Regions from separate parts of the Homo sapiens genome. Here all the other regions are linked to region 4. Evidence: fine-mapped expression QTL. A gene starts in region 4. Each other region holds a variant in brackets. All regions are shown on one strand. Distances are from middle to middle. Region 1 has its middle 85 kb from the start of RPAP3. Region 2 overlaps RPAP3 (RNA polymerase II associated protein 3). Region 3 holds the start of ENDOU (endonuclease, poly(U) specific). Region 4 holds the start of RAPGEF3 (Rap guanine nucleotide exchange factor 3). Region 5 has its middle 130 kb from the start of RPAP3.

What was found.
Region 1: its variant is fine-mapped to the expression of RAPGEF3 in whole blood (TOPMed, PIP above 0.99).
Region 2: its variant is fine-mapped to the expression of RAPGEF3 in whole blood (TOPMed, PIP above 0.99).
Region 3: its variant is fine-mapped to the expression of RAPGEF3 in whole blood (TOPMed, PIP above 0.99).
Region 5: its variant is fine-mapped to the expression of RAPGEF3 in whole blood (TOPMed, PIP above 0.99).

What each region holds. Positions count from the first base shown.
Region 1 is chr12:47,618,087-47,624,497 of GRCh38, forward strand. No RefSeq gene overlaps it. Among named protein-coding and RNA genes, the nearest start is that of RPAP3, 85 kb to the right of the region's middle. The variant AACCCCTGGCCATC/A (reference allele first, on the strand shown) is at 3,257.
Region 2 is chr12:47,659,550-47,665,828 of GRCh38, forward strand. It overlaps RPAP3 (RNA polymerase II associated protein 3), which reads right to left. Exons shown (of 17, transcript NM_024604.3): 17 at 1,700-4,041. The coding sequence ends at 3,956. Among named protein-coding and RNA genes, the nearest start is that of RPAP3, 43 kb to the right of the region's middle. The variant CTG/C (reference allele first, on the strand shown) is at 4,399.
Region 3 is chr12:47,720,467-47,726,877 of GRCh38, forward strand. ENDOU (endonuclease, poly(U) specific) reads right to left here and starts at 5,024. Exons shown (of 10, transcript NM_001172439.2): 1 at 4,893-5,024; 2 at 287-409. The coding sequence starts at 4,947. The region is part of intron 3 of RPAP3-DT (RPAP3 divergent transcript); the gene reads left to right. RefSeq lists a silencer at 5,539-5,658. The variant A/C (reference allele first, on the strand shown) is at 3,693.
Region 4 is chr12:47,755,603-47,762,013 of GRCh38, forward strand. It overlaps RAPGEF3 (Rap guanine nucleotide exchange factor 3), which reads right to left and starts at 3,278. Exons shown (of 28, transcript NM_001098531.4): 1 at 2,949-3,278; 2 at 2,264-2,476. The coding sequence starts at 2,954. It also overlaps a transcript of SLC48A1 not described here. RefSeq lists enhancers at 6-175, 206-275, 2,489-3,157, 3,158-3,826 and a silencer at 3,098-3,447.
Region 5 is chr12:47,575,339-47,581,749 of GRCh38, forward strand. No RefSeq gene overlaps it. Among named protein-coding and RNA genes, the nearest start is that of RPAP3, 130 kb to the right of the region's middle. The variant A/C (reference allele first, on the strand shown) is at 3,426.

The DNA.
Region 1 (6,411 bases), 140 kb before region 4:
GGAAATTCTGGGTGAGAAAAAAATTCATTAGTATCTTAACATATTCCCCTGACACAACACAATATAAGAGTTATACTTTTGTCAACAAATCATATGTTATGGTTTCTCCATTTAATACACTGCTCTATACATTTCTGCAACTAAAATTGATATAATCATCCTACGTAGCCAGACCCGTTTCCTGAAACCAGGCTCATCAGATTACTTCCTAGCTCAAATTCCTCCAGCAGCTCTCCCTTGTCTACAAAATATAGTTTAGTCTCCATGGTTTGGCACATGAAGATGTCCAGTCTGCCCATTCTGTTTTTACCTCCATCTTCCAAAGCTCCTCAGCATGGGCAGTCACAAGCCCACCATATTACCCTGCCTGCAATGCCTTCCTTCTTCCCTTGTTCCTCTCCAAAATTCCCAACTGTTGCCATAAATGTTGACTTCATATCTCCACCATCCCTCCACTACAGCAGCCCATACCAACCCATTTCAGTTCACATCAACTAATTCCTCTGCCAACCACCTTACTCGGTATCCCTTTAGATCTCTAAGAAGGATACATTGCTATTTTAAACATGAAAACATCACATGTGGTAGCAGAGCATAGGTTAATTAATATGTAGAAGTTTCTTTGCTTAGGACTGGAATTGTACCACCTCCATGCAGTAACACTGGTTGTGTCATAATAATGAATGCCTGACCAGGTCCTGAATGGAAAAAAAAAGTGAGAAAGCAAATGCTTTATTAAATGCAAATGTCTGATTGAAAAATAACAGGCCCACTGAGATATGAAAGAAGACTTTAAGAGTGAAAAGGTTCACATCCAGTTCAGCACAACCCTTCAACTTTCAGTTGAAGAAATACCTTCCGCCCTCACCCACACCCACCACCACAAGTTTCCGCCTGTTGTAATGAAAGATGGTACTCCTCACGTGCTATACAATGTGGAAAGCCCACTGCTACGGACTGAATGTTTGTGTCCCGCCAAAATTCATATGTTACCTCCTAATCTGTAATGTGATGGTATTTGGAGGAGATTAGGTCATGAAGGTGGAGCACTCTTGGGCACATGAACGGAATTAGTGCCCAGTAAGCACCTTTGCCCCTGCCACCATGTGAGGACTCACAGAGAAGACGGCTGTCTATGAACCAGACACTGAATCTGCTGGCATCTTGATCCTGGACTTCCAGGCTCCAGAACTGTCAGAAATAAGTTTCTATTGTTTATAAGCTACCCAGTTTATGGTATTTTTGTCCAGTAGCCCAAGCAGATTAAGATACTCACTTGCTAAGAAGCTTATAAAAGCTCATGGGCATAATTAGTGACAATCAATAAATGCATTACATGTGCGAATATGATGTATGAAGCCAAAAAAGAGATACTCTGAGAAAGACAGAGAAGAAGAGGGAAAGGTTTCCAAACTTTCTAGGCTTTCACTCTTCACATTTGCTCCATTGGAGCATCGTCTGTCAGTGAATTCCTCTGAAAACTTTAAGTGGGTAGTTCTTATAGGCGTTCTTATCTATCGCTTTATCCTTGGACCTGTTAAGAGCAAAGCTGCTTTCTCAAAGTAGAGAAAGGGTCTCACCTGAAATACACCATCTTCTTGGGTGGCTGGAGAAAAACTCATATTCAGACCAGAATCTAGAACTGAGGGGAAGGCCCTAGGTGAGAGGCAGAATTAGCATTTTTCCTTGGCCCTGACCTTGAAGAACCTTAAGTGTCCGGGAAATCAGTGCTGACATCTAGGAAACCAGATTCCAGCATCAGGGAAGACAGAAATTGTCCTCCACATGGAGGCAGTGTAGGAACTGGATTGGGGCACTCAGGAGGACACAGAAGATAGGCATAGGTCTGGGAATCCGGTGAGAGAGCTATCCAGGGTGGCATCAGAGACCTGGATCATGTATGCTGAACTTTTCTGCCTCTAATATCTTTATTTTACATTTGCCCCTAGAATTTGGTGAAGTCCTCCTGAAACTGCCAGCTTGTCTAAGCTGGACTGAGGGGAAGCAAAGGAAAGGGCTTATATCCACTCATGGGCCTGTGTTTTTCACAGCCTAATCCCTGTACCCTAGGAGCCAGGCTCAGGGGTGGCAGTGGACATCCTAATATGAGTGCTCCAAGAGAAAACCAAGCCACAATCCTTTGATCCCACCATACTTCCTCACCTGTCAGGTCCCTCCAGCCCTGCAAGAAAGATCTCTACAAAAGCACCCTCAGTTCTCCACCCCCAACCCTACCAACAAGTGTTACTGAAAATAGCAACAGGGTCCAGGACTGTTGATAGCTGGTCTTTCCCAATATCTTCAACACAGTCCATGACTCTGAGCTTCCAGGTTCACTTCTTCCCTCTTGCAACTCTAATTTGCATGTCATTCTCTGTTGGGCATCTATCTACTCATCCAAAAAAGAGCCAGACAAGCATAAACGGCAGAAACTCAATGCTGACTTTGGGACTCTGGCTTCAGAGCCTGTTGGGGAAGTCCCACCATTACTGGTGGACCAGTGCTTGGCATTAAGCCACCATTGGTGTCTTGTTGAACAATTTCCCCGTGGCAGGCAAAAAAAAAAAACAGTAACCCTCAGAGCCATGCAGGTCTGGCTGAGTATGCAGAGCGGGCAGAGCCTGGGGGGACTCAAGACCACAGCAGGAGCCCTGGGGCCTCCCTTTCTGGAGATCTAAGTCTTAACTACTATTCTAAAAATAGGATCTAAAAGCCAGAGGGCTCCCCAGTAGAGATTTAATGTAGACAGAGTGTGCAGAAAAAAGCATGAAATCAGAACTGACAGCAGATGGAAGGGCTAGGATGTTACTTCAAATACATGACCTGGACTCAAAATAGAGAGAAAATGATTCTCCACCACATCAGATTATTAAAGTCACCATCGCATCCCTAGCCACAGGTGCTCACTGCTCTAGGGCTGCTGTCTCCACTGTAATGAAGAGTCTGATTCTCAGGCTATAGCTAAGTGGACAAGAGCTACTCAGGGCAAGGGAAACTTGGGTATGATTGTTCTGGTACTGTGATGCCATTTATTACATTTTATTGTATTCTCATTAAATTCACTCCCAGTAATAATAAAACACAACATATACTGTCATTGACTATGTTGCAAACCCAATGCCAAGTAATTTAGATGAATTATCTCATTTAATCTTCACATCAACCCTGTGAAGTGGGCGCTATAATTATCCCCTTTTTAAAGATTATGAATCTGAAGTTTGGGGACTTTGAGTCATTAGCCCCATTGCTTGACTCA[AACCCCTGGCCATC/A]TGACTCTTAAGTCTAAGCTCTGATGCTATACCACTTCTGTAGACTGTAAGTACAAAGGCAGGAAAAGTGTCATTCATTCATCCATCCAACAAATATTTTGAGCAACTACTATAGACTACTATAAGCTATTCTAAGTGTTAGGAGTACAGTAAGCAGACAACGTTGCTGTTTGTAAGAAGCTAACATTCTGCACATGGGAAAACAGACAAGAAACAAGTGACCCAATCAATGAAAAAGATAAATCAGGTAGTGGTAAATACTAAGATTGCAATAAAATAAGCAGATATGCTGGCTAGAGAATGACTAGGTTCAGGTGTGTGGCTGAGAGGGCGAGTGTGACTTCAACCTCAGTGACTGGGGAAGATCTTCCTTAGGAGATAACATTTAAGCTGAAACCTGCAAGTTAAGAAAGAAAGAGTCATGTGAAGATCTGGGGAAAGAGAATCCCAGGCAAGGGCCTGAGCCATGTTTAAGAAATAGAAAGAGGCTCATGTGGCCGGAGCAAAATGAACAAGGAGGATATTCCACCTGATGCTGGAGATGAGGTTTTATTTTCAGTGTAACCGTAAGCCAATGTTGTCTCCTTTACCACTGAATCTATAGCACTTAGTGATGTGTTCAAGGTATATGTTAATTGTCACTGAATAAAATGTTTGCTGCATGAAGAAATGAAAGAGTGAACAATACCCAGCTTTCAGCTCAAAAGAAAAAGTTACAGAATGATGTACCCTGTAGAGGACTAAGAACCTGATCTAAAGCCCAAGATGCAGAGTCCTTCCTTCCCCCTCTGCTGCACACTGAGTGGGTGGCTAGACTCCCCAGAGATACTGCAGAACTGTGAACAGCAAGTCAAAGTTTATTATGTTACATATAAGGAGTAGAAGATGGTCATGCCATTGCTGTGTGTGTGTGTGTGTGTGTGTGTGTGTCCCTGCTCAAAATCTGCACAATAGCTTCCTTGCTTGGCCGGGTGCATGATCCTTTTCAAACTCTGAAGAACAAAATGTATATAACACATAGGAGGCAATATCCCTGGGGACTGTAGCCCTCATTTCTGGGTGACAAATTCTGAAGAGTCATGCTTGCTACTTCCAAGGGATCCAAGCATGAACAGGAAGGAAACTTGGCAAAGAATCACACCAGCCTTCTCAGGGACAAGGGATGACACGCTTAAGCCAGTCTATACCTAACACAGTTTGTCTGGCTCATGTTTTGCCCTCCTTCATAGTGCTTATGATATGTCAATGTGATAAAAATGAGTTTCTGATGATCTCCAAGCCACAGATTCATGATAGGAAGCAAGCATGCAGGCCATTTTAAATGGTTGCCTGACACTTCCTTATTTTACCAATAATTTTATCAGCCTGTTTAGATAATGCTTCTATCCCTCCAAGTGCCACAGAGAGATAGCACATCGATAAGGTCAAAGAGACAACACCTGGACCAGAGAGACAGGTCTCAGGGCCAAAGTGTGACTGTGAACCTAGGCAACATAGCAAGACCCCAGCACTACCAAAAAAAAAAATTTTTTTTTTAATTAGCCAAGCATTGTGGTGTACATCTGTTGTCCCAGCTATTCTGGAGGCTGAAGCAGGAGGATGGCTTGAACCCAGAAGTTCAAGGATGCAGTGAGCTATGATGGCACCACTGCACTCCACCCTAGGTGACAAAGCAAGACCCTGTTTCTGAAAAAAAGTGTGACTGGGAACTCAATGAACTTTAATTGCCTTATATCTTTTCCATTTTTTCCCTACCATGCTCCCACCTCCACTGGCACTCCAAGTTGGAAGCAGATCTGGCTTTTGAATTAGTTTTACTACAATTAGCAGTGCAACCTCAGTCAAACTACTCAACTTCTATGTGTCTCAGTGAGCCAGATTCTGTAAAATTAAGAGAATAGTGTTGAGAAGATAAAATGCATAAAGCACCAGAGCACCTAACTCACTTCTGGCATCTATTCAGCACTCCTCCTTCCCATCCTTCTCCCCAAATCCAAAGGCCCCACTCCCTTTGTTCTCTAAGGACATTAAATAGCACAGAGAGAAGATACTCACAAAAAATATTTCTCATGAAGGTGTTATTAATAATATTCAATAACATCAATTTTATGTTTCCTTTCCAAGCAATATTTAAAGTTTAATCCACAGCAAAGAATTCCTAGCTAAGGGATTTTATGCCATGTAGTCATATTGGCAAAAAGTAAGAAAGTCTTTACCAAATACAGTACAAGCCAACTGGGGTTATGAATGAGTTTACCATGCCATTATCCCCACTTCCATATGATGCTATCATAGTTCATTCAAATGAAGAGGCTATCATAGTTCATTCAAATGAAGAGGAAAAACCACCTAAAGCTTGGGAAGTGCAAATCTTAGGCAGACCAAACATAATTATTGACTCTTGGAGATAAAAAAAATTCATTAACTCAGAAAAGAAACTCTATTCACAGTTCTTCAGCCAGATTCACATTCATGCTGACTTTAATAAATGTTGTGAGGGGATCTGGCAAGATGGCCGAATAGGAACAGCTCCAGCCTGCAGCTTCCAGCACGACCAATGCAGAAGGTGGGTGATTTCTGCATTTCCAACTGAAATACCCTGTTCATCTCACTGGGCCTGATTAGGCAATGGGTGCAGCCCACGGAGGGCAAGCAGAAGCAAGGTGGGGCATCGCCTCACCCAGGAAGTGCAAGAAGCAGGGGGCCTCCCTTTCCCAGCCAAGGGAAGCCATGAGGGACTGTGCTGCTCGGCCTGGATACTAGGCTTTTCCCACAGTTTTTGCAATCCACAGACAAGAAGACTCCCTCGTGTGCCTATACCACCTGGACCCTGGGTTTCAAGCACAAAACTGGGCAGCTGCTTGAGCAGACACCGAGCTAGCTGCAGGAAGTTTTTTTTTTTGTACCCCAAAAATGACTGGAACCCCAGCAAGATAGAAACGTTAATTCCCCTGGACAGGGGGCTGAAGCAAGGGAGCCAAGTGGTCTCGCTCAGTGGGGTCCCAATCCCACAGAGCCCTGCAAGCTAAGAACCACTGGCTTGAAATTCTAACTGCCAGCACGGCAGTCTGAAGTCGACCTGGTATGATCAAGCTTGGTGGGCTGGGGGCGGGGGGTGGGCGCATCCGCCATTACTGAGGCT
Region 2 (6,279 bases), 96 kb before region 4:
TCCACTTACCCAGTCACCCTTTTCTCCTGATTCTATACTTCCAAGTAATCTCATCTAATCCTGAGACTTCACCTAAATGCTTTTTAATGTCCAAACCCAAATCACCATCCCTAATCTATTTCAATGACCAAAGGGATCACAAATCCAACAGATCCCAAATTGGACCTTTCTCTCAGCCACTCAACCAAACCTTCCAGTTCCACATATGGTGTCACCCGCTGTGGTTTATATTTTAGTGAATGAAAGCACTGCCCTAGGGGAAAAAAATCTGGGCATGACCATTAATGCTTCCTTCTGCTTCTCAACTTGCTTCCCAGCCCACACAGGATCACCAAATTGTACAAGTTAGGAAGCATTCACATTATGTTCCAGGGATGCCATTCACGCAGACCACAATGTAAAGGGTGCTCCTTGGAGTTAAGCCCTGAATGTGGGGGCCCTGAATCTACTGCCAAATCTTGCCCATTCTACTTCCCAAATATTTCTCCATTCTGGTCACTTCTCTCCATCCTCACGGCTAGTACTCTTGTTCAGGATACCATAATCTCTTGCCTTAGGTACCCCAAGTCCTCTGACAAGTTCCCCTGTCTCTAATGTCCCCAGGCAACTGTTCTTCCCATAGTAGCCAAAGTAAATTTTATAAAATACAAATTTCAGAATCACCCTCCTATATAAACTATCACTAGTTCCACAGTACCCTCAGGATGAAGTTCAAATGTCCTCTAGAATCTCAACCCTTCTGTCTTCACCAGCCTCATTTCTTACCACAATCCAGTTCCCACTCTGTGCTAAAAATTAAACTTAAGTTTTCTCAAACTTGTCTTGTCTTTTGCATCTGCTATTCCTGGTATTTCCCATGATCCCTTAGTATTACCTGTTTAGCATTTATTACGCTGTACCTCTTTATTTGTATCCCCACCATCCCATTCCACCTCCCACTTCGTTGTAAGTTTTGTGAGGAAAGAATCCATGTTTACTTTGTTCATTTTTGTATTTTCAGTGCCTAGCAGTGCCTGGCATTATATGTAGATTCAACAAATATTTGTTAAATTAATTAAATGAATGAATCAAACAAGTTTCATTAACATTAAATTTTTAATGTTTCTTTAAACATAACTCTGATAAAGGTCAAACATTAAGAAAGCATTGTAAAAAGGTAAAATGAGCCTTGGTACTGTGTTCAGAAATGCCTCCTGTTAACAGAGATAATGGATTTAGAGGTTGGAAGTAAAATTTTTTTCAAATGCGTTAGCACAAATTGTTAAAATGGTGAGGACTTGGATATGCCCCATCAATTTATTAAATTGAGTGTAACTAAAACCAGAGTCGGAGGCAGCCAATAAATGACGGGCATGGTGCTTCTGCCAACAATTCAAGAATAATTATGATGTAAATGTTGCTATCAAGTCAAAAGATACAATTAACAGTAAATAACTACATTTCCAGAAAGAAACCACTTGGGAAAATACTGCTTTTATACCTTTAAGGCAATAATATTACTATTATTAATAAAAATGACTGAGCACTATGTGACAGGCATTAATGTGCTAATACTTATAAGTATTAGCCTTTCTAAAAATCTTTGAGGTAGGCATTTACTAATATTCTATTTTATATGAGAGGAAACGGAAGCTTAGAGGTGCTAAGCAGTATGTCCAAATTCACAAGCTAGTTGAGTGCAATAGGTTGTATACGCAGGTTATTTGACCCAAAAATGACTTTATTAACCACTATGCTATTTTGCAATAAGGCAACAATATGACAGCCCCTAAAGACTGTTCTTTATTCTAATCACTTTTAGGAAATGTTGGTAATTGTAATAATAATAGTAACAGTAGCTTACTATACATCCAGCCCTGCTCCAAAAACAAAATGTGTGCATTCATTCAATCTCACTTATACCCATTCTACAGATTTCAAAAACAAAGAATAGAAAAGTAACTTGTCCAAGGCCCTAAAGCCAGATGGAGCCAGAATTCAAACTCAAGAAGTCTGAATCCAGAGCCTCTGGTCTTAAATCACTACATGAAAATGTCTCTGGGGAGAAATCAGGCTAACATCAGAAATTTTTTAAAATTCAAATTCTATAGTAAATCTTGTGATCTGTACTTCTTCAGTTAACAGTCTCTACACAGGTAACACAACATAAAAACTGCAGCTGGAAGTAGTTCAAATAGCTCTACATTAAGAGAAGACAGCACGTTCTGAACTGTTTTGGCCAATTTTTAGCTCTATAATCATGCAGAGAACATTAACCCTCTGAGCCTCCTTTTCTTATGTTAAGAATGACAATAACATTACCTGCCCTGACTACCTTGTAAGTTTCTTCAAAGGATCATACCGTAGTCCATTCGGGTTGCTATAATAAAATATCAAACTGGGTAGCTTACATTAATAAAAACAGAAATTTATTTCTTACAGTTCTGGAGGATGGGGAGTCCAAGATGAAGATGCCAGTAGATTCTGGTCTCTGGTGTCTGGTGAAGGCCCACCTTCTTGTTCGTAGATGGTGCCTTCTTATGTGTCCTTACATGGTGTAATTGGTGAACAAGCTCTCTGGGGCCTCTTTTACAAGGGCCTGCCCTCTTGACCCAATCACTTCCCAAAGGCCCCACCTCCGAAGACCATCGCCTTCAGGGTTAGGATTTCAACATATGAATTTGTGGGGGATATAAACATTCAGATCATAGCAGATAAAAAGCTAAATTCAATTGCCTGTTTATATATCATAATACATTTAGCAATAAACAAAGTTAATAAACTCTATCAAGTGTATTTTAAAGCATTCAAACTATCCAAATTACAAACATATCTCAATAATTTATACCACAATCTGAAGAAATTATCTTTGTAAATAAATTATGATTACTTCTCAAACAATTCATAAGAATAGTAATATGTATAATGGCAATAAAAATTAACCACAATATCGTATAAAATTGTAAACTGAACTGTCTTATTGATGCTGATAACAATTAAAGGATGGTGTCCTAATATTTTTTAACAACTTGATAGTCTCTAAAATTAACTGGTTTTACCAGTGCTTACACCATGCCCAAAAATTTGCTAGGCTGCTACTTTAAACATTTACTTAATATGATTCTTGCGTCAAATTCAATTAAATTTTATAAGTATCAGTTGAGCACCTAACTATGTGCAAACGTCTGTGCTAGGTACTATGCAGAGTACAGGGATGAGCAGAGTTCTAGCCCTACTTTCAAAAGTTTACAAACGCTACACTCACATCCAACAAATACATATGGGCTATATGCTAATTAGTACTTTAAACATTACTAATTTTTACATTTTTACACCTTGCATTAGATTATCTGTCCTTAACTGGTATGTAACATGGATATCTTAAGGGAAAAAACCCTATGGCATTAAAATGTAAGAATACTGTGATACTTCAATTAACCTAGTTTGAAAGTCTAGTTAAAAGTCTTCTTTCTTTCAACATAAATACTAAAAATACATACATACCCTGCAACTAAATAACTTCATGTTAGTGAATTGGCACAATAACATTTAAAAGTTTTATAAAGAAAGGATCTCACTATCTATTTAACTTCCTCTTTACAAAGGTAATTATTCATATGCTAATGAAGCAGCTTTGGCAAGTGGTTACAAAAACTCATGAAAATATAAAAATAATGTTACATTTATGGGTCACTGAAGAATGTATCTAAATTTAACATTTAAAATGACTCATAAAATAAAATGCTGATCCTTACAAATGTATCTCATTGTTTATATTTTTATTTTCAGAAAAACAGAGTTCACTTGAATACAATTCTCACTAGTTAAATCACAATTCACCTTATAGTTAATTAACTTATGTTCAAAGATAGTCCTTTCCTGCTATATAATTTCATTTTCTTAAAAAGCAAAACACTTTCAGTAGAAAAAATTTACATATGAAAGTCAAAAACAATTATTTCAGCAAAAATGGAAATCAACCACCGTATCTTTTCTTGAGTTCTTCGACAGAACTATCCTTCAATCCTGACTTGTCTATGTGATTAAATAATGCACGTGCAACTGAAAAAGAAAAAGAAATTCTCCATTTTAATCTCATTTTTTAAAAACCAAGCAAAATGTAAATTAAAAGGAGCAATCTATTTGTCAAAAACATTTTACATTTTAAAGCAATACATAGGTTTATAAATTCTAATTCAGATATTTAAAAAGCCAATCTGAGAACACAAAATTATATAGCAATCCAACAATGGTTCTTTCAGGAATATTTTGCTTTAGCAGTATAAAATTTGCCCTGCATTCTCAATGATATTAATCTTGCAGATTAAACTTAATTCATTCTGTACTACCTTAAAAATGTTTACCCTATCTGTGTAACAAGTGTATTTTTATTTACTTAATATTTTTATTTCAACTAAA[CTG/C]TTTTTCAAACCTAAATCATTTTATTTTAAAAGAAAACTTTACATCACTACTGTAAATGAAAAACAGCAATGACACTGATGAAATCACACTTGATGGGACAGTTAAATATTTTTATATTACAAAATTAAAACTACTACATGTTAAAAATAAGATCATGGGCCAGGCGTGGTGGTTCACGCCTGTAATCCCAGCACTTTGGGAGGCCGAGGCAGGCGGATCATGAGGTCAGGAGATCGAGACCATCCTGGCTAACACGGTGAAACCCCGTCTCTACTAAAAATACAAAAAAATTAGCCGCGAGTGATGGCGGGCGCCTGTAGTCCCAGCTACTCAGGAGGCTGAGGCAGGAGAATGGCGTGAACCCAGGAGGCGGAGCTTGCAGTGAGCTGAGATCGAGCCACTGCACTCCAGCCTGGGCGACAGAGCGAGACTCCATCTCAAAAAATAAATAAATAAATAAATAAGATTATGAATCGCAAAAAAATCATATTTACTACCACTGATCGGTCGACACTCAACATTAGGAAAACACTGTTTATAGTTCATGCTTCTCAACATTAAAACTGGAGAACTAGCTAACAGTTATTAATGATAATGGCAATAATAAAATATAACAACAGCTAAGTATTTACTGAATACCTGGTTGCATGCCAGAACCATTCTAAGCGCTTTCCATGTTTAACTTAGCAGACAGTGGAAACCCCATCAAGACAGTACTATTGGTCAGCCAGTCTGAAGAGCCCACCTGCATTCTCGGATACCTTGAACTTATCACATTAGAGTAACAGTAAATTCATTCATTCAACACACTGACACTGAGGGGTTATTATGCGCTAGCACTGAGGCCCAGTGAACGAGGTAGACAAAGTTCCTGCTGTCATGGAGCTTTCATTCTATTAGAGAGGGAGATATAATAAACATACACATGAACCACTGTCAGCTAGTAATATATTACGAAGAGAAATAAAGCAGGGTAAGAAGAGAGAGGTTCATGGGGGGTCAGTGAAGAAAGACATCTTTGAAGTGGTGATAGGTGAAAACCAAATGAAGAAGCACACAAGTGAAGATATGTAGGAAGATATTCTACGTTGAGAGAACAGCCAAAGTCCTCGAGGCCAAAATAAGTTTGGCAGTTTGGTAATTTTTTTTTTTTTTTTTTGAGACAGAGTTTCACTCTTGTTGCCCAGGCTGGAGTGCAATGGTGCAATCTCGGCTCACTGCAACCTATGCCTCCTGGATTCAAGCGATTGATTCTCCTGCCTGAGCCTCCCAAGTAGCTGGGATTACAGGTGTCTGCCACCACGCCCAGCTAATTTTTTTCTTTCTTTTTTTTTTTTTGTATTTTTAGTAGAGACAGGGTTGCATCATGTTGGCCAGCCTGGTCTTGAGCTCTTGACTTCAGGTGATCCACCTGCCTCGGCCTCCCAAAGTGCTGCAATTACAGGCGTGAGCCACTGCACCCGCCTGACAGTTTGGTATATTAAAAGCTATATAAAACCACTATAATGGGGCAGAGTGGTTGAAAAAATAGTGGTAAAAGATGAGGTCAAAACAGTAATAAGAAACAGTAACATTTTTCAGGGATTTCAAGGAACATTTCTGGTTAACTAAAGCTAAAACCAAAACTTTTGGTTTAAACCCTCGCTATTAAAATATACATATATATATTTTAATATATATTTTTTTATTTTTATTTAACTATTTATTTGAGACAGAGTCTCACTCTGTTGCCTAGGTTGGAACGCAGTGCCACAATCATGGCTCACTGCAGCCTCAACCTTCCGTGCTGAAACGATTCTCCCACCTCAGCCCCCCTAGTAGCTGGGACTACAGATGCACGCCACTGCAACCAACTCATTTTTGTATTTTTTGTAAAGA
Region 3 (6,411 bases), 35 kb before region 4:
CCCTTTTTTAGAATTTAGTACTTAAACTTTCAAGATATTGTTAAAACTGATATTTCAGACAGAAATTCTAGGTAAATGACATCTACTGTATTTTAAGTTGGGGGCATCCTAGAAAACCTGAGAAAAGTGGTGGCCAAATTCCTGACCCTGCCTCTGTCCCTCAGTGCTTTCTGTCCAGACCCTTAGAGCCCCTGTGAGTCCTGAACGCTGCTCTGGCCTGCTGGACACCCAGGCCAGTGGCCCCTTAGACAGGCTGGACATGCCTTCGTCTCACAAGGAGGCTCACCAGTACACAGATGTTCATAGTCTTCACAGCAGTTCCCATGCCAGAGACACCGGCGGTCACACTGGCAGGCAGCGTCCCGGTTAAATTTCTCATTACATCGAGATGCACAGGATTCTATTTTTCCTATGGGCAGTAAAGGTCACCAACTCAGCTCTATGGAGACCCTGTTCTCCCCAGGGTGCCTCCTGCAGGAGGGTTCACAGACCAGGGCAGGAGTGTACCTGGCAGGGAAGGGCATTACTCTCTGCAAAGGAGAAGTACATCCACAGCCTCCCATGCACAACATAAGCCTCCTCCCCACCACCCAACACCCACCAAATATTTCAAGGCTCATCAAAGAGACCAGGATCACAAACCCAAATCCCTATTTGGGTTAGGCCCATAACATAAGCAAGTAAAGAAGCAGGGTATGAGGCAGTAGGAAGAAATGGAGACCGTGACAAACTTGAGAGCAATGCTCCATCTGAAATTTGCAGCTGATGCTCAGCTCTAGCCGATTGTGGCCATGTTGGGATGTGTGCTCAGTGTTGCCAGAGCCTTCCCTTTTTTTTTCAAGATAAATCTTCATTTTTATGTGAAATTTTCCAACCTTGTAACACTTTAAGCACACCAAAGAAAGAGGTCTGTGAACTGGGTGTAGCCCACAGGCCCCCTTCACCTGTCATGTCATGCTGCCCCAGGGATGTCCCCTGCCCCTGACCCTCCGCTGGCTCTTATTCCATCCCTGTTATGTTATTTGCTTCTTTGCTCTTGTCTCCCCTTCTGGTCTTCTCTGCACGCTCTTTCCCCCTGTGTCACATCTTTCTGTTCTTTCCCGTCTTTGGAGTACATTCAGATGAATTTATGCTCAGGGTGGGGAATGAGGCGGGTGCGGGTGAGAATTGGGCTCTGGCATAGCATTCTATTATGTAACCACAGACCACATCCCCCACTGCAGCCAAATGGTTTGCAGAAGCAAGCTTTTGGTCGCAAGGGACATAAGACAAGACATTTTGAAGGAACAGTGGAAACCCACTATCCACTCTGGGCTTTAAGGGTGATAACAGAGTCTTTGTTCGATTTGAGGTTCCTGAGGTTTGGATTTCACGAACGCTGGGTTCAGAGGTCATACTGTGGGTTACAGAGAATGTCAAGATCAGAGTCAGAGTTACCATCAGCATCAGAATTTGTATCAGTGAGGAAACTGAAACCTAATTTGGACCAGGGTTGGGGTTAGTTAGGTTAAGAACTACAGTTAGGATTTGGGCTTGAGTTAAATTAGTTGATAAATTAACAATTTTGTATTGATATTTGGGTAAGGAATAGGAATAGACTTAAGATGACATTCGGGGTTGAGGAATGTGTCAGGATGAGAAAAAGATGAATAATCCCTGTTTTGTTTGGGGGCTTGGTTCTGGTTATGATTCAATACAGGTGTAGTATCTTAATTTAAGCCTGGAGTGGGTTAGAGCTTAAATATTAGAGGTTGGGTTTGGTTACCAGTCCCTAGTATTGGATTCTGGGATTAAGGTTGATACTTTGTCTAATGAGGGACAGCATAGCAGAGAGGTCAAGAACCTAGACTCTGGCGCCAAACTGCTTGAGGCTGGAATTCTGGTTCTACTGCTTTCTAGCTATGTGATCTTGGGCAAGTTATTTGAACTTCTGTGCGTTGGTTTTCGTATCTGTAAAAGTGGGATGATAATGGAGCCTATCTCATAGAATATTTGTAAGAATTAAATGAGTTAATATATGTAAAGCACTTAGGACAGCAAGTGACACATAGTAGTACCATAGAAGTATTTGTTAGGTGAATAAACGGTGGCAATATTTCATGCCCATCTTCCAAGTGACAAGTGTTCAGACTGGCTGGAGCAGTCTTCCCTGTGTTGTGGCCCCGTCGACACACTTAATCTAGCTGACACTCTCCCAGGGTTTCAACAGGGCCATCCCTTGGGCTGGGTTGTCAGCACATCTGTGTTGCTGGTTTCCTGGCTGACTTCATCACTACAGGTCTGTATTCTTTACATCAGAGAGGCATTGGGTCAAGGTTAACCCGGGTCCTCAGACAACTTCACATTGTCAGGCCTCCAAGGTGGGCAGGAAGGCAGGTTTCCAGTCCCTAAAAGAGACCAGGCCCAAGGCCACTTGTTCCTTCAAGCCGGCAGGAACTCCTCTTGAATGTTAAATGATGCTCCCTTGGAGCCTGAATGCAAAGACCTTAAGGAGAAATTTTCAGCCCATCAGCTCCCTGCTCAGTCAGCCTGGCAGTACACCCAGAATCCAAAGGGAGAGAATTCAGGCAAATCAGGGCAATGTTTTTAATGGGCCAAATCAGCAGAGTCCAGGGAAAGAATTCACTTCATTCCAGCAGCTGGCACCAGTTGAGAAGGGTTGCAAGCGAGCAGTCAGCTGGACGTGCAGGAGAGCACCCCCGCCGGCCCAAGCTGAGTGGGCTTTTTCATCTCTGCTCAAGAACTTTGTCTCCAGCAAGAGCCCCATGCCAGCACTTTCTCACATTTCTCTGTGCACTTAGTCTGCTTCAAGGTGACCTTGGGATTTGACAGTGGAGTGCAGGGGTGGGAGGAACTTTTCCTCATAGGCACTTTGCTGTGACATTCTGGGGACACTCTGATGAGTAACTAGTCACCCTAACAACTCACTCCAGCATCCCCACACTGCACCATTAACACCAACACTCTGAGTAAGCCTTGCTCCCCAAGCCAGGTGCCTGAATCACTGCTGTAGTAACCTGTGCCTCTTGTTCCTCTGCCTCACCTCTCTGACTCTCTGCCTTTCTTCATCTGAGCCTTTCCTCTCTCGGGTTCAGATTCTCCCTCCATTCCCCCAAGAAATGCTCAATTTCTCTGCACTTTCTAAGACTTCAATATGCCAGAACAGCCACTCCCTATCCATACTGGCCATCAAGGAAGCTTGGTCCCAAGCCTGGGTGGACACAGTGTCCCTGTACACTGGTGCTCAGCCCCTCTGATGACTGGGACATCCTACACATCTGTACCGTTAGAAGGCCCCAGATGCTGTTTCCATGGAGACCTAGTCAACCAAGAAGCCTCACCCCTTGGACTAGCTTCCTGCCTCCATTCACAACCAAAAAAATCAACCAAGGTTCTCCACAGACATCCAGCTCATAAAGGAGGACCTGAGGCTGTCAGTGATTCCCCATGTGATTCATATTCTTGCCTCTCAGTTCTGAGATGTTGGGATAGTATCAACAAGTGCAGAGCCTCTTCCCTGCCACCTTAGGAAGCCTCATACACTTGACCTCACTTCCCCATCGATCCCACAGCCAAAGCAGATACTGCCCTCCGACCTAGCAGCAAGAGCTCCACCTGCACTTCTAAAGCCACTGCTACCTCTGCCCCCCAGGGACCAAATATCCAGAGTTGCTCTCCTTCCCTAAGGCTGG[A/C]ATATGCCAAGCCCGCTGGCCACCCCTACACATTAAGCCCCCAAGTTCCACCTTCCTCCCAACCAACAGGGCTGAGGCTGGTGGCTCCCAGGCCCACCCTCATGCTCTCCCACTGCCTCTCCACCCACTAGGGCCCAGGCAGAGCTGGTTTCTGGTAAGATGCACTATCTCATCCATGGTTGGGAGGCACAACTTCCTCTTCCAGGGGTTTTCCACTTAGAAATCCCATAAGGGTCTCCTTTCCACAACCCAGTTGGAAATGACCCCAAGCGGAAGTTTCTCCCAAGAAAATTTATAGTCATAATCATAGCGAATTTCCAGTTCACTGAGATCTCACTTTGCACCAGGTGCTTCTCATACATTATTTCATTTAATCCTTTCCACAGTCCTACACAGGAGCAACCCAGTGGAAGGATTCTTTCTCCTGTGGGCAGAGGAGGATTCTCCCCACACTCCTCAGCTCAGCCCCTCCCTTGGCACTCCTTCCCACCCACCCACTAGCTACCAATTAACCCATCAGCACCAGCATTTTGCACAGTTACTAAACAGGAACATGGTCCTGTTCCTCTGCCAGTCCCATCCCCTGGACCTCTCATAACTGTGGGCCAGGTCCCTTCTGTATTCTTCAATTCTCCTAACACTGCAACAGAGATCCATTCCTCTGACCCCTGTACAGCCCCAGATAGGACGAGGCCCACCTCCTGGTCAAAGGTCCTTTCAGTTTCCTCCTAAGCCTGCCCACCTCCTAAGGCTCTACCCAAAGTAACATCACACCCTAAACAACCTCACCTGTCACCAGGCAGTGGAAGGAGTGACCAAGGGCAGCCAGGCCACTCAGACCCCATGGACACCAGCCCTAGCTTTATTCCTTACAGTGGCCCCAGACAACAAAATCTTGGGGAGATCAAAAGTCAGGCTGGACTAAGGGATATTTGGGGCTGATCCTCCAAGGTGTCAAGAAGGGAATTCCATGAAATCAGACCATCAGCCCTGCAACTCTCTCCACATAGTCCAGTCCATTCCGGGACCAACGCCTGCACCCTCAGACAAGGACAACCCAAAAGTGCTCTGCGGCTTTAGGACAGAGCTCACCCTCCCTTGTCCCACGGCCCTGCCCTCTACCAAGTTCTCCAACTCTCTGCTTCTTTAGGCAAGATCCCGCCCCACCAGCAATCCCATGCCCGCCAGATAGTGACTTACCAGCCCAGGCCAGGCCACACAGCACGGCCAATACCAGGGAGATGCAGGCCCTCATGGTGCCCAGTTGGAGGCCAAAAAGGGAGTGGCTGTTGGACTTTCACTAGAGTCAGATGAATGTCACAGCTCTCAGACGAGCCTTATTCCTCAAGCTGATCCTTTTAAAGACACCAGGACTTGTGGAGCTGGTGTCTCCAGATCCTTTCAGGAAGAAAAAGGGGAGGGAGGGACCCTAGATGGATAGGAGGTGGGGCCCTACAGCTGTTTGAAGCCTGAGGGAAGGTGACTAAGAAGGTAGGTAATGCCAGATGTTGAGAACAGGTAATGCTAGCTGTTTGCAGCTTAAAAAATAGGTCATGCAGGCAGGCACACCAAGATGGGTCCAGTTTGGAGGGTTCTTTGTCCAAATTAGGGACACCCATGGGCTGATCTTTGGGTGATCCCCACCAAACAGACACCTACTTCCAAGTCTCAGACCTGACTTTCCAAGGGGCCACAGGTTGGATTCATCTTCAAATTCCTGGAGCTTAGCATGACACTGGCACACAGTAAGGTGATTGGTCCAAATTTGACAAACAGTAAGTGCCCAAGCAAGGGTTGGGGTCATTGGACAGAGAGATAGAGGATGTGTCGGTCAGAACCAGTGCTATTCTTATGACCACCAAGCCCAGCATAGCTAAATCAGCCACATGTCGAGCGCATGGCTAAATCACTCTAAAATATTATGCAAATGACTCTTACTGAGTCAGCCTCTGGGGTTTAAACGTTTCAGATTCCTTATGAGGCAGGGGAGGGGCAAGAGGCCTCTTAAAGGCAGCCGAAGGCCCACTCTTCTTCCCCTGGGAGCCCAGGGTTTCACTCCCTTCACCCCAACTTACACTCCTCTCCTCAGGAACTCCTCCCCAGTGAGGTTCTTTTGTTTCCAAGTCCAAAAGAAGGGGAGCAGCTCCCCGTGACTGTCCAGTTTTCCCCGATAATAAAGGTAAAATCTGCCAAGTATGATGCCCTTGCCAGAAAGAGCACTGCATGGGGATTCTCAACCCTCTCAGGAAAGAAAACTATCATATAAAAAGGCAAAATTGGTGAACAGTGGAGGCCACTCTATCAGTGATTTTTTTCTGGAGGTTGGGAGTGGAGCACGTCTTCATCCAGTGTGCTTTAACAGGAGAAGTTTCTTCCTCTCGCTGGTCTTCAGCTTTCTCATCTGAAATGATGGGGTTGGATCTGACAATCCCTTCCAGGTTCTCAGACTTTAATCTCGAGTTTTCCTGCCCATGCGCCAGGTTGAACAGTTGCTGGTGGGTTAAAGAGAATCCCCCAGCCTGTTGCTGTGTAGAGAGGAGTCCAAACATAGGGACTCAGGGGTAGAGAGAAGGACAAGCCTAGGGCAAGCAAACTTTGCAAGGGGCTCACACAGGAAGTGCAATGTATGTATATATTTTGAGATGGAATCTCTCTCTCTGTCGCCCAGGCTGGAGTGCAGCAGTGTGATCTCGGCTCACTGCAACCTCCATCTCCCCAG
Region 4 (6,411 bases):
TGTCACTTTTGCAATAGCTGTTAAGTCTTATCTTAGTCTGTATCTAACTGCAAGCCCTCCTACTGTAACCCGCTTTCATTTTCTCTTGTCCTGGTCTAGGTAGGAACAGAAAGAGCTGTCTTCAGACTTCTTCTCTGGGAGGTTGATGGGTTTTCCCCTTGGCTTTCGAAGAGGGAGGTCTGGCCTCAATAACTGGCAGTGCTGTCTTCCTGGGACTCGGGCTCCACCCCTTCACCATGGGCGTGCATGCTCACAGCTGGCACTCATTCCCTCACGGAAGCCTTCCCTGGGCTAAAGGCATCATCAAGAGGTAAGAAGTACAGCTTCACAGGTACCCAGAGCCTCTCAAATATAGGCATGATGGAATGAAACCTCCCCACCCCAGTCCCCAAAGTTGGTCATCAGAAGAGGGAGTGGCCGCCTGCCTCTAAACACTAAAAATCTAAGTTCCCTCTAGTCACCAACGCCCACCTGGCACGGAAAGGCCTTGTTTTGGTGCCTTTGACCCCATTTACACTCCAGCAACCTTTACCCCCACCTTTCTGGCCTTCCCCTGCACACCAGCCCTTCATTTCTGGGGGCTGTGGAGAGTCAGGAGACAGCTTGGTGGCCTCCTCCACTCCCTCCCAGACTTCAGGTCCCAGGAGATCCTCCAGTGACCTATTGTCCTGGCACCTGACCTTCTCCCTACCCCCTACCTTGCTTCCACAAGCTGGGAAGGGGACAGGAAATGCACAAATAATTATAGCCCAAGAGGGAAGGAGGGAGGGAGGGTTCCAGCCCACTGGCTCCAGGCAATAGCTACAGCCAGTGACCCGGAGAGCGGAGAGCCGGAGAGCCAGAGGGGTAGCGGAGGAGGACCCAGGCTCATGATAAGGAAGACCCTAGTAGAGAACAGCTCTACCAGGACTGACATGTGGACTCTCCTCTCAATTCTGATTGCAAAGAGGAGCCCCTCATCTTGGTAGGTCTCAGTTTTTTCAACTCAGCCTCACTGTAAATGGCAGTTGGGCAAGGTAGGGGGAAGGAGGGAGAGGGTGGTGGTTATTCCACTCAAAAGGACTTGCCAATAAGAAGTGAACTCTCGGCTAGGCGCAATGGCTCATGCTTGTAATCCCAGTGCTTTGGGAGGGCGAGGTGGGCAGATCACGAGGTCAAGCGATCAAGACCATCCTGGCCAATATGGTGAAACCCCATCTCTACTAAAAATACAAAAATTAGCTGGGCGTGGTGGCGCACACCTGTAGCCCCAGCTACTCAGGAAGCTGAGGCAGGAGAATCACTTGAACCTGGGAGGCAGAGGCTGTAGTGAGCCAAGATTGCTTCACTGCACTCCAGCCTGGTGACAGAGGAAGACTCTGGTTAAAAAAAAAAAAAAGAAAGAAAAGAAAAAAGAAATGAACTCTCCCGGCCAAGCGCAGTGGGTCACGCCTGTAATACCAGCACTTTGGGAGGCCAAGGCAGGTGGATTGCTTGGGCCTAGGAGTTCAAGACCTACCTAGGCAACATAGCGAAACCTGGGTGGACACACGCAGTGGAGACATAACTGAATCTCAAGCTAAGCTACTCTATTTAGTCTGGATGGTTGGGGATAGCTTCTCTGCTGATTTGGATAGTACAGCCATTATCTTGCCTCCCAAATCCCACCATTCTTTCCCCTCCCTGCTCTCTCCTTCATTCTTTCAGGTCCAGAGATGTTTCTCACTAGCAAAGGGCACTTTGGTGATCTCAGATTCTCCAAATGTCTCAGAATCCTTCCCTGAGCCCCCCAAAGGCAGGTACCAAGCAGTGTCCACATGATCACCTCACCCTAAGACCAAAACGCAGAATTAGCACAGTTCAGTAACTCACTAAAGGAGAATGTTGCCACGGTGATGCACCCAGAACTGTAACCAAGCTTACCTCACTCCAACCCATTGACCCGGCCCCCATACCTCCCACCTCCACCTGGAAAGAACACACAAGTACCTAACTCAATGCCGGCTCACTGAGGTGACAGATAAACAACAAATCCCTTTCCCCTTCCCCCCATGCCCAAACAGAGACATTTGGGCAGAACACACACACAGACACACACACGTTGCAGCTGTGTGAGCCACCCACGCACACTGCAGACAAGCTTCCTGACCCAGTGTCCACGGCAGCTGTACCACTGTACACCCCCAGAGCAAGCTGGGCCACCAGCAGCATGCCAAGCCATGATCTAGGCCCCCCTCTAGCTCTGGTACTGGCCCTGGCACCTGGGCAGGTGAAAGGTACTCACCCAGCGCAGCCCCTGGATGCAGCTCGGACGCTGGTGCTCCAGCAGCAGCTGGTAGGAGCAGCTTCGGGGCCGGTGCATCCTTCTCAACACCATGTTGAGTAGTGTCCCCTCCGGCACCACGTCAGGGAGGGCTCCCACCCGCGGTGCTCCCAGAGCTGGGCTATCCTCCACAGCCAGGCCCACCTGCCAGCAGCTCTCACCTGGCCAGCCCACCTGTGACACGGGGAGGAAAGTGGACAGCCATGGGACACGACTGGGGCGGCTGGGCCACAGTACAACTGCCCCAGGCAGAACTACTTCCTTAGAGTCCTCTGGACTGGTCAGGCGGAGGTGCTGCAACCCTGCCAGGAGCTGGGGGGAGGAACAGGAAGACCTTCACTGGGGCCTGCCGGTCTGGCGCACTTAGGGGTCTCCAGCTGGCTCTTGGAAAAGATCAGGCCCTTCTTAGTCCTCTTTGGAATTCTGTCCCATCTCACTGCCCATGCCCCTGCAGGGATCTCCACTACCTCCCAGTATGAAGCTATAGATTCACTAGGTCTCCCAGAAATGCAGCTTCGGCTTAAACCCTTCTCCTCTCCTCCTCAGCCCTGACTAACCCTCCCTCTCCCACCCAAACTCCCCACCGTGTCAGCTTCCTCTCCCGCCCTCTCCTGCTCCTCCTCAACCCTGACCCCACCTTACCCACCTTCATGTTTCTTTTCAAGCTCGCACAGCCGTGCAGGCTCTAGCAAAAGGCTGGGGGGTCCCCAGCGACCCCCATCAGCTTTGATAAGGGGATCCGGAGGGTGCCAGTGGGTAAGTCCAGGTACAGTGAACTGGGCCAGTGCCTAGCTGGACTGGCTGCCAGGGCAGCAGGATGCAGGGCTCGGTGGAGAGGCTCCTCTTGGGTGAGTAGAGGGGTGGGGGCGTGGTGGGGGGACGCCACCCAGCCACCGGCGACAGGGAGCCCCGAGCCTGCGCCTTCGTCTCAGACGAAGGAGCCAGCTGGCACCGGGCGCTGAAGCAAGGCTGCGCTGGCACCGGTCCGGGCGGGAGCTGTCACACCCCCTGCGCTGCCCGCCCCCTTCCCCTCCCCAGGACTGGCGGAGGGGGCGGGGTGGAGGCGCCCTGCCTTACGGTAGAGGAATGCGTAGGGGAAGGGGGCCGGCACTGGCAGGCTTTGGAGTCCGCACCCGGGGGTACCAGAGTGGACATCCGCCTGAGCCCAGAGTATCCCCAGGGGGCAGGAGCGGCCCCGAAGTGTGTGGAGGAGGCCGCAACGGCCGGGGTGTCAGGGATCCGGCGGTGAGTGGCTGCACTGGCCGCCACGTGGCCGGGAGGAGAAATGCAAACAAGGAAACCGGGGAGAGCGGGGAGGGGGTGAGTCACTGCGGCCTCACCCGGGAGGGAAATCCGGGCTGGGGCCGCTTCCCGGCTGGGGGTGTCTGCCTCCTGTTTCGGTTCAGGGTCTCCAGCCGCCCGGGGGAGGGAATAGGCGGCTTTCCCGCGGGGAATCCCGCTGCCTTGCCTCCCACAGTTCCGTTCCCAGACCCACGCCCCACTGCCCCCTGCCCCAGCACACACACACCGGGAGCAGTTGAGGAAACTGAGGCTGGAGAGGAAGGACTGCTCTCCAGAACGGGTAGGGGCCCTAAGAGGAGATTGGGGTTGTGGCAGAGCTTCCAGGGGAGCAGAAGGTGTTCGAGTACCACGCCCCCTACCGCGCGCTCCCTGGTGGCCGGGTAGGTTGAGGCGGAGACCGGGCATTCCAGCGCCCTGCTAGGCAGGCTTGCTACCGAGGCTCCACGCCTCCCTGGGCCTCAGTTTCCACCACTGTGCAAATGGCCCAGCGCGGGCCTCTTCGCCCCACTCCTGAGAGGGTGGAGAGACAGTGGCCGGGGACAGCGACCCGTAATTCAGGACGATAATGAGGGTTTGGAAGGAGGTGAACGCCCCACCCCCAGCTTTTTAGGACTTTTTGCCCCTTCTCTTCCCTTTTCCCTTTGCTGTTGAGCCAGCCCAGACTGGGAAGAAGTATCTCTAAAAAGCCTATACCCCAATTTTGGGATGCCAAGCCCGCATCCTCCACCATGATTATTTTCTTGAAAGTGAGGAGAAGACTGGGAAGAGGTAGCTCTAAGAAGCCTATACTCCCAATTTTGGGATGCCAAGCCCCCATCCTCCACCAATTATTATTTTCTTGAAAGTGGGGAGAGAAATTTTAATTGTGATTAAAATCCCATTTTTAATGTATACATGTATAAAAAATGTTTCCCAGAAGCTTACTAAAATGCAGGCTCCGTCCCCAGCAATTCATATTCAATCCTATTGGCATGAAATGGAAAATCTGTATTTGGAACAAACACCCCAGGTCATCTGCTGTGTCCACACATTAAGAAACGCTGGTGGAGTTTTAAATGCCTCTCCGGGGAAGGAGGAAAGCCTGAGAATGAATCTGACCTCAGACCCAAATCCATTCAACGGAGTTCTGGTAATTTGGAAGAAGGAAGAGCAACCTGGAAACTGACAGGAAAGGATGACAAGTTGGGAGTCACAGGTATGCATGGGGAAGAGTTAGGGGGATGGAGTCATGAGTTTCGGGTTGCTGGGGCCAGTGCCCTGGCCTAGAAGTTCTTGCAGGAAGGCTTCCTGAGACTGGCAGTTGGGTCACAAAGGGGTCCCCTATTTCCTATTCTTGCTGCCCTTACTCTGGGCAGGTGGAAGATGCTGGGGAGTGAGGCAGGACACTTGTATACATTTCAGCAGAGCTACAAAATCTAATCATGTGCGGGCACTCTTTCAAGTGCTTTCCATGTGTTTAATCCCTGCCACGATCCTGTGAGGTATGTACTTCTGTTATCCTCACGTCACAGATGGGGAAACTGAGGCTCAGGGATATTAAGGAAATTGCCAAAGTCACACAGCTAGTAAATGGTGGAGCTGGGGCATGAATCCAGGTTGTCTGTCTCCACGTACTCACCATGGTATACTGCGTATACTCTGTATGTATTCTATTCTTCTAATGTAGACTAGACTGCCTAGGAGAGTCTACTCAAAAAAGGAAAATTGAGGCCGGGTGCGATGGCTCACGCCTGTAATCCCAACACCTTGGGAGGCTGAGGTGGGGGTGAATCATGAGGTCAGGAGTTCAAGACTAGCCTGACCAACATGGTGAAACCCTGTCTCTACTAAAAATACAAAAATTAGCCAGGCGTGGTGGCGTGCGCCTGGAATCCCAGCTACTCAGGAGGCTGAGGCAGGAGAATTCTTTCAACCCGGGAGGCGAAGGTTGCAGTGAGTCAAGATCATGCCACTGAACTCCAGCCTGGGCGACAGAGCGAAACTCCATCTCAAAAAAAAAAAAAAAAGGCAGGGGGGAAATCGAATATGTTTGTGTTGAGGTGTGGGGGAGCCTCAGGGAGCCAAGGATCACTCAAATCGGTGAAAATGAAACTGTCCCAACCCACTCCCCCACCTATGTTCCCCTTCAACACTACTCTTGCCTTTCTTTTTTCCATTTCTTTTTCATTCCCCCTCTCTGGGGAGATTGAGAAGAGGACCTGGGGTGATTACCTATTGGCTCCTAGCCTGGGGAGATCATAGGGAGTAGATCTTTTATGTGTCCCATTTCTAGCTTGTCCTACCTCTAACAGGCAAGGCCCCCAGCCTGCCATCAAAGCAGATGACGGGGCAGGTTTTTGCCTTCTCAGGATCCCTGGATGGGGACCCGACAGTAGAATTACTGCTCAGCAGATATTTGATCAAGGCTGAGGCCTAGAAGGGGCAGAGGACTGGGAATGTGTCTGAGGAACACATGCAAGCAAGATGGTAACAATCATGCCATGTCCTGGTACCGCCTCCACCCTCCTCTGACTGTCATTAAATGCTTGGCAGGTGTGTTAAGACAGATAAATAATAATAAGAATAGTCAACATGCACCAGGCCCTGTTCTTGATACTTTGTATATATTCACTGACTGAATTGTCACAACAACCCTATGAGATAAGGTTGTTATTTTTGTTATTCCATTTTACAGATGAGGGACCTGAGACACAAAGAGGTTAAATGACTTGCCCAAGGTCCCATACTAGGAAGTGGTAGAGCCATGAGTGACTCTGCCCAGGTGGTTTCTACCCTGTGTGCTTTACCACTCTGCAGTCCTGCCTCTG
Region 5 (6,411 bases), 180 kb before region 4:
CATCAGTGTCCCCACGCAGTTGCAGGTTCCTGAACTCCTGAACACCACACACCCAGGAGCTCTGTAGCCAGGGGCTCTGTGACTGCTCCTCTCACACTGGCCTCCAGTGATTCCCCTTCTCACCTCCCCGAGGTCTAGCTGAATGTTTTAGCGAAGGCTTTCTTTCCATGAGCGTCTCTGAATGCCCCCCACCCCCCACCATTCCCAGTCCCACCAGCCCTGCTTCCAGGGCTATCATCACCACCTTCCAGGGACTCATAAGAGGGAGACCACCAGCAGCCTTTGCCTCATATTTACATTATATTTCACAAAGGTTCTCTGGATCTTCCAAGGTGTTGCCCAACTAGCCATAAATGAAGCTAAGATATTGGATTCAAGAGAAGATTTAAGAGTCCTCCAAAGTAATGTGTGCACTTACCACACACCCTTTCTCTCTCATGACACTTCCATTAAGTGGCTTTCCCAGCTGCCCACACATGCCCTCCCTTATGCCCTAGATGCCCCAGATAGACTTTTATCAAACACGTGCAATGCCTTATTGTGAACATTTCTCTTTATATCTGCCTCTCCACCAGACTGTGAGGTAGCAACATTGCCATATTTGTCTCTGAAACCCCAGTACTTAGCATTTTGCCTGGTACTCCCTGGTGAGTATTCAATAAGCACTCAATGAATGAATGAACAAGTTCTCTACCCTACCCTACCCTACCCCTCAAAATGCTTTCCCCACCCAGCCAAATGATGCATAGAATTATAATATTAGACTTTCTGATATGGCATGTCCTTCTGATTGCAGTATGTCTTATTCAAGGACAATGCCTCTGTGGGGAGTAGTGCGGGAAGGCTCCTCTGTTGTCAAATCCTCATGTTGTGGAATGACTTCCTTGTGGCGGGGGAGGCAGATGGGGTTCTTAGGAGAGATAATCACTTGAGGTGCCTCATAAGGGCTGAAGAAAGGGGAAGACACAGAAAGATAGATCAAAAGACTCAAGGAGCTTTTCCTCTGGAACAGCTTTTCTGAGGAGCAGCTCTGGTTGCCATAGCAACGGCTGCAATTTGTGGTACCTCCTTCCAGCTTCCTACCTGCTGGTGAGAAGGAACTGAAAGCCACAACCTCTTAACCCAGCAGGGCATTTTCCTTGCATCCTTTGAAAGCAGGAGCTGGGGTGAGACCCAGGGAGACAGCAGCCTGGGCTGCACCAACAGGAGTGGTGAAGGAAAGAAGCCGAGAGGGGCGGGGGGTAGGGAGGCACAGTGCTGCCAGGAGGTGAAGGCTAAAGTGGGGGCCGAGCAACACAGGAATAAAGGAGTAAGCTGCCACCGTTGGCAAATAATCGCAGCTGGGGCGACAGTTCTCAGAGCTGATTACCTAGAGATCCTCTGGCTTAATTGATTTTATATAACCTCCTGGCTGCAAAATTGGGAGGCTCAAACAATAAGACAATTTTCAAAGGACAGCTGCTTGCTTAAATGGACACTCCACACAGAATTGTTTCCTGGAGCTTTTAATGACTTATTCTTCTCAACTGAGCCAGAAAATACTTTTCTAAAGAAGAAATAGGAAGAATGCCCTATCTGTGAATAGGAGATTGTGCAGGAGGGTGTTGCTACGGTGTGTAATTATTAGTCTGCCTAATCAAATCAGCAGCCTTATTGTAAGATTTGCCCATTTCTGCAGCAGAAATATGATTTGGAAATGCTAACAGACAGTATCATCTTTCTAGGTTCTACTTTCTGTATAGTCTAAGTCTTCAGCATAAATCAACAGTATTTTTTTTGTAAGGTATGAAGAAAGGGGAGAATTAAAGGCAATCAAATTATATTTGATAAATTTATTTATTAATCACTTTTATTGATGAAGACCTAAATAAATTGTGAGTTCAGAAAAAATATTTGGGCTTAGCAAGATTTTCTTTTAAAGAGAATTATTTTTTCTTTCAACACCAGAGGGAAAGCTTATCCAAACAATTCCTAGAGTCGATCATGGTTCGTTGAGGAACAAAACAGCAGAAACATGTAATTTCACAGCAGCTCCCACCAACTACAGCCTCTCATTACCAGCAACAAGCCAAATAATTTACTAAGCAACCCTGCTGCTGGCATTTAGCCTTTGTCTTTCTCACATCTGGTGCTCCAAGTATGATGCATTTAATAAACATGTTTATAAGCCAGTAATTTATTTCTGGCACTATTTTTGCTTCTTTTTACACCAAACTTCATTCGTAGGGAGGGAACATGTTAATTGTCCTATGTTAAGTGACCTTTCTTACTATGTTGTTAGGAGATTTTACAAAGCCTGCAGATGAACGTGACCTTAGAAATCAAGCCTAGTGTAAGCCGTAGGTTTAGATCTTCGCACCACAATAATCAGAAGTGAAGCATCAAGCCAAAGTGGGGTGGGAAGGAGATCCATCTCAAAACATTCCCTCAGGCTTCCCAGAAAGTCAAAACAATGTCGGGAAATTACTCTGATGGATCTCATGACCTCTGGATGATAATGTGTAGGGTCTCATATTACTGCTACTAAGATGAAAAATCAAATAAAGTACATTTGATTTTGGTTTATGAAAATTTTATGTAAAAAACAGGCAGATGGAGATGCCAGATAGTTACAGAACAACCAAAGACTGTTTGATATTTCTTCTAAAAAAGAGATTCATTTTACAAAATTTAAATAGATCTTCTTTGCCGAAGAATGCTCATCCATCCACCCATGTAGCCACAATCGACTCCCTGAGGGACAGAATGCACCAGAGGTTACTTTTCAGAGGACAAGAGGTCAGCTGGTCAAGGGGAAGACAGGCAGATGAGTTCAGTAGCAGAGCATTGTATCAAACACCTTGACCAAGAATAAGCAGCAGCCTAGGGGATGGATAGCCCATTTTCCTCGATGTGATTATTACATATTACATGCCTGTATCAAAACATCTCATGTACCCATAAATATATACACCTACTATGTAGCCACAAAAATTTAAAACAAATTTAAAAAACAAAAAAAAGCAGCAGCCTGACTCTACTCCTAGCTCTGCCACCAATTCTGTCACGTAACCTAAGTCTCTGAGTCTCTGTATCAGGTGGCAATTGCCGTGTAATGAACCACCCCAAAACATAATGGCTTAAAATAATAACTACTTACTATTTCTCACAAATATGTGGCTAGGTGGGTCTGCTGATCTGAGCCAGGCTCAACTGATCTCAGTGGGCCTTGGCCATCCATCTGTGGTCAGCTGATGAGTTGCAAGGGGGCCAGTGGCCTCCGCTGTGACAACATGATTCTACTTCATGCAGTTTATCTCAGCCCCAAGTCGGCTAGTCCTGGATTGTCCTCATAATAGCAGAGAAGCAGCAGCGGGGGTCAGGGGAGGAGGAGAGAGAGAAAAGAGATGGGAGAGGAAAGGAGGGGAGAAGATGAAGAGTGAGGA[A/C]AGTAAGGGAATAAGAGAGAGAAAGATAAGGAAAGAGGGAGAAGAAAATGAGAATGAGAAGAGAGAGAGAAACAGAAAGTGTGAGTTCTTGAGACTTGGGCTCAGAACCGAACTTTGACACATCTACCAAATTCTTCGAGTCTGCCCTTTTCACAGGGTTATCATGCTTATTAAATGAGATGGTTTCTGTGCAGCATTTCATAAATCACGAAGTATCATAAAGCAGATCTAATATAACAAGACGTCACTGACACAGCTGTTTTGGAGCTGTCCTTCACAAAATACCAGATTTAATCTGCTCACTAGAGATGAAGCCAGTAATGACATGTGGGGCAGAGAAGGTCATGTGAGATATTTTATTTATTTATATCCTTTGCCTTGTTCTACAAGGCTTTGAGATAGCTTGACACAAGAATACAAACACAAAAATAACAGTATACTATAAACAAGAACTAGGAAAAATATAATTGGAAGGAGACAATCAAGGCCTAGGCCTAGGAGTGGTAAGGGACTATCCCAAATATGCAAATGTTGCCATAAGGGCAATATCATGACTATACTGGAGTCTTATATTTGCCTCTATATTTCCTAGAAATAAAATAGACCAGGCGTGGTGACTCACGCCTGTAATCCCAGCACATTGGGAGGCTGAGGCAGGTGGATCACAAGGTCAGGAGATCGAGACCATTCTGGCTAACACAGTGAAAACCCGTCTCTACTAAAAATACAAAAAATTAGCTGGGCGTGGTGGCGGGCGCCTGTAGTCCCAGCTACTCGGGAGGCTGAGGCAGGAGAATTGCTTGAACCCAGGAGGTGGAGGTTGCAGTGAGCCGAGATCGCGCCGCTGCACTCCAGCCTGGGTGACAGAGCAATACTCCATCTCAAAATAAATAAATAAATAAAAATAAAAAGAGCTGTTTCCCAAAGGTTGTGCACAAGCTGATCTGGGCTGGTACAAAGCTGGCCAGCACACACCTACCTTCCCAACCATCAGCATAATACCTGCTGAGAAGCTCTTCAGCAGGTGCCAATCCAACGTCCTTCCTGTCCAAGGTGTCACCTCACCTCCTGAGTGCTGGTTATTTCTGGGTATTGCAGTGGGCAGTGCAAGAATCGGTTTGACCTCCGCTGCAAGGTCAGGAGAGCTCAGCCACAGGTCAACAGCAGGGACTGTGTTCAGGCCATGGTAAGAATAACTGATGTTCATGGACGAAGAAGAAGGAAAATAGTATGGATTTCTCCATCCCTGTCAGGAACGTGGTGTTTCCTTTTTAAATAAATTTAAGTTTTAAAAGTAAGTCCATAGAGTTACCAATATTAAGTAGATAAAAGTATAGATAGTATATAGGTGAAGCAAACCTGTGCCCGTATTATGTAGATGCCCAGAGTTTGGGACATCCATTCATGAGCAGCACCGGTTCCCAGTGAACTTCCCAGAATGAGTTAGTAACAAATATTTCTCCAAATGGAGTCAGTACACCACAAGGGCCATGTGAGACTAGTATGCATGAAAAATATTAGAAGTTATCCCTATATTTATATGCAACAGTATGAAAGAAGGTAAACTTCAATACTGCTTACATATTCCAGTTGACACAGAGGCACCCCACCTGCTCAACTTGCAAGATGGTTACCTGCCCAGGTTGCCCCTTGCAGTTCTCTGGGTATCTTGAGGGAAAAGTGGAAGTTCCCTATGCAGAAGGTTGGCACATTTTTGTTCACTGTCACCAAATGGGCACATATTAGATTCAGAAGGGTCTAGTTAAGTGGATGTATGAAATATAACATCCAGTTTTAATGAAATGAGCTCTCATGAATGTAGAGGATTAAAGGTAGTATCAGTAATACAAGCTCAAGCAAACAGAAAGCTTGTCTGGCAGAGCCATACTTCTCCAATTCTTAGAACAGACAAGCTTTTTATCAGCGTCTTAATGAGGAAAACAGTGATCTGATCATATCTGACAGAAAGTCAACCTCAAATCTAATTAACCTCAAATCTGAAATTAACAAAAAGCTATTTAAAATATGGATTTACTTCCACTCTTATTAATTTTGATCCTCGCTTTGAGTGTGTATTTTGCCTATGATATTAGCTAATGAGAGCATGAAGCCATCAAGATTAGCAAGAGATTTTAAAAATGAAGCAGCCAGAATATTCATCATCATAATAGAGTGATATTGTTCTATTAATAAATAAAATAAGAAAAATCATTTATTTCATTTTTATCTCATTTATTTAAATTGCTACTTTATGTATCTTTATAATATAAATAATATACTAATATAATAGCACTGTGTATCATTTATTAATGTATCCATATAGATTGGGAGAGCATATTGACACTTTCCTTTCACTAATGAGGTAGGTAATTTATGCTTAGCATTCCAACAATGGAAGGCTCTAAGCATGTGGGAGTTATTTATATCCTACTGCTCAAGGTTATCACCAAGATCTGATTGCAAAAATTCAAAAAATTGCAACCTCAGGCATGAATGGGTTAAAACAGTTGGGATACTGTTGCTTTAAATAACTAAAAAAATTAGCTGGTTGAATGGAATTATTAAATTTAGGACCGTGACATTTGGGGAACACCCACCACAATAATTATTTTAATTGTAAAATCGTTTATCTAAAACTAATCGTTCTGGTAGTGGTCTCATCACATGATGAACCACCCACAGAGGCCACTTCCAGGCTGTGAAATTAATATTGGTATACAGAAGGAGACTTATTTGCCTATTTTTCCATAGCCAGGAGAAATTAATCAAAGTCAGTTTCAAATTATTAATGTTTAATGTGTAAAAAGGGGGCACAGAACACAGCCCTGATTTATGCCACCAGACAATATTAGCTGCATCATCAAAAGATGTGCCAGTTGATTCCAACTCTCACTGTCGTGTAAAAAGCTGATTTCTCTGAATACCAAAAACTATGAATCCACAAGGAGGTCATTCATGCTGACCCAAAGATGGCTACTGTCATATA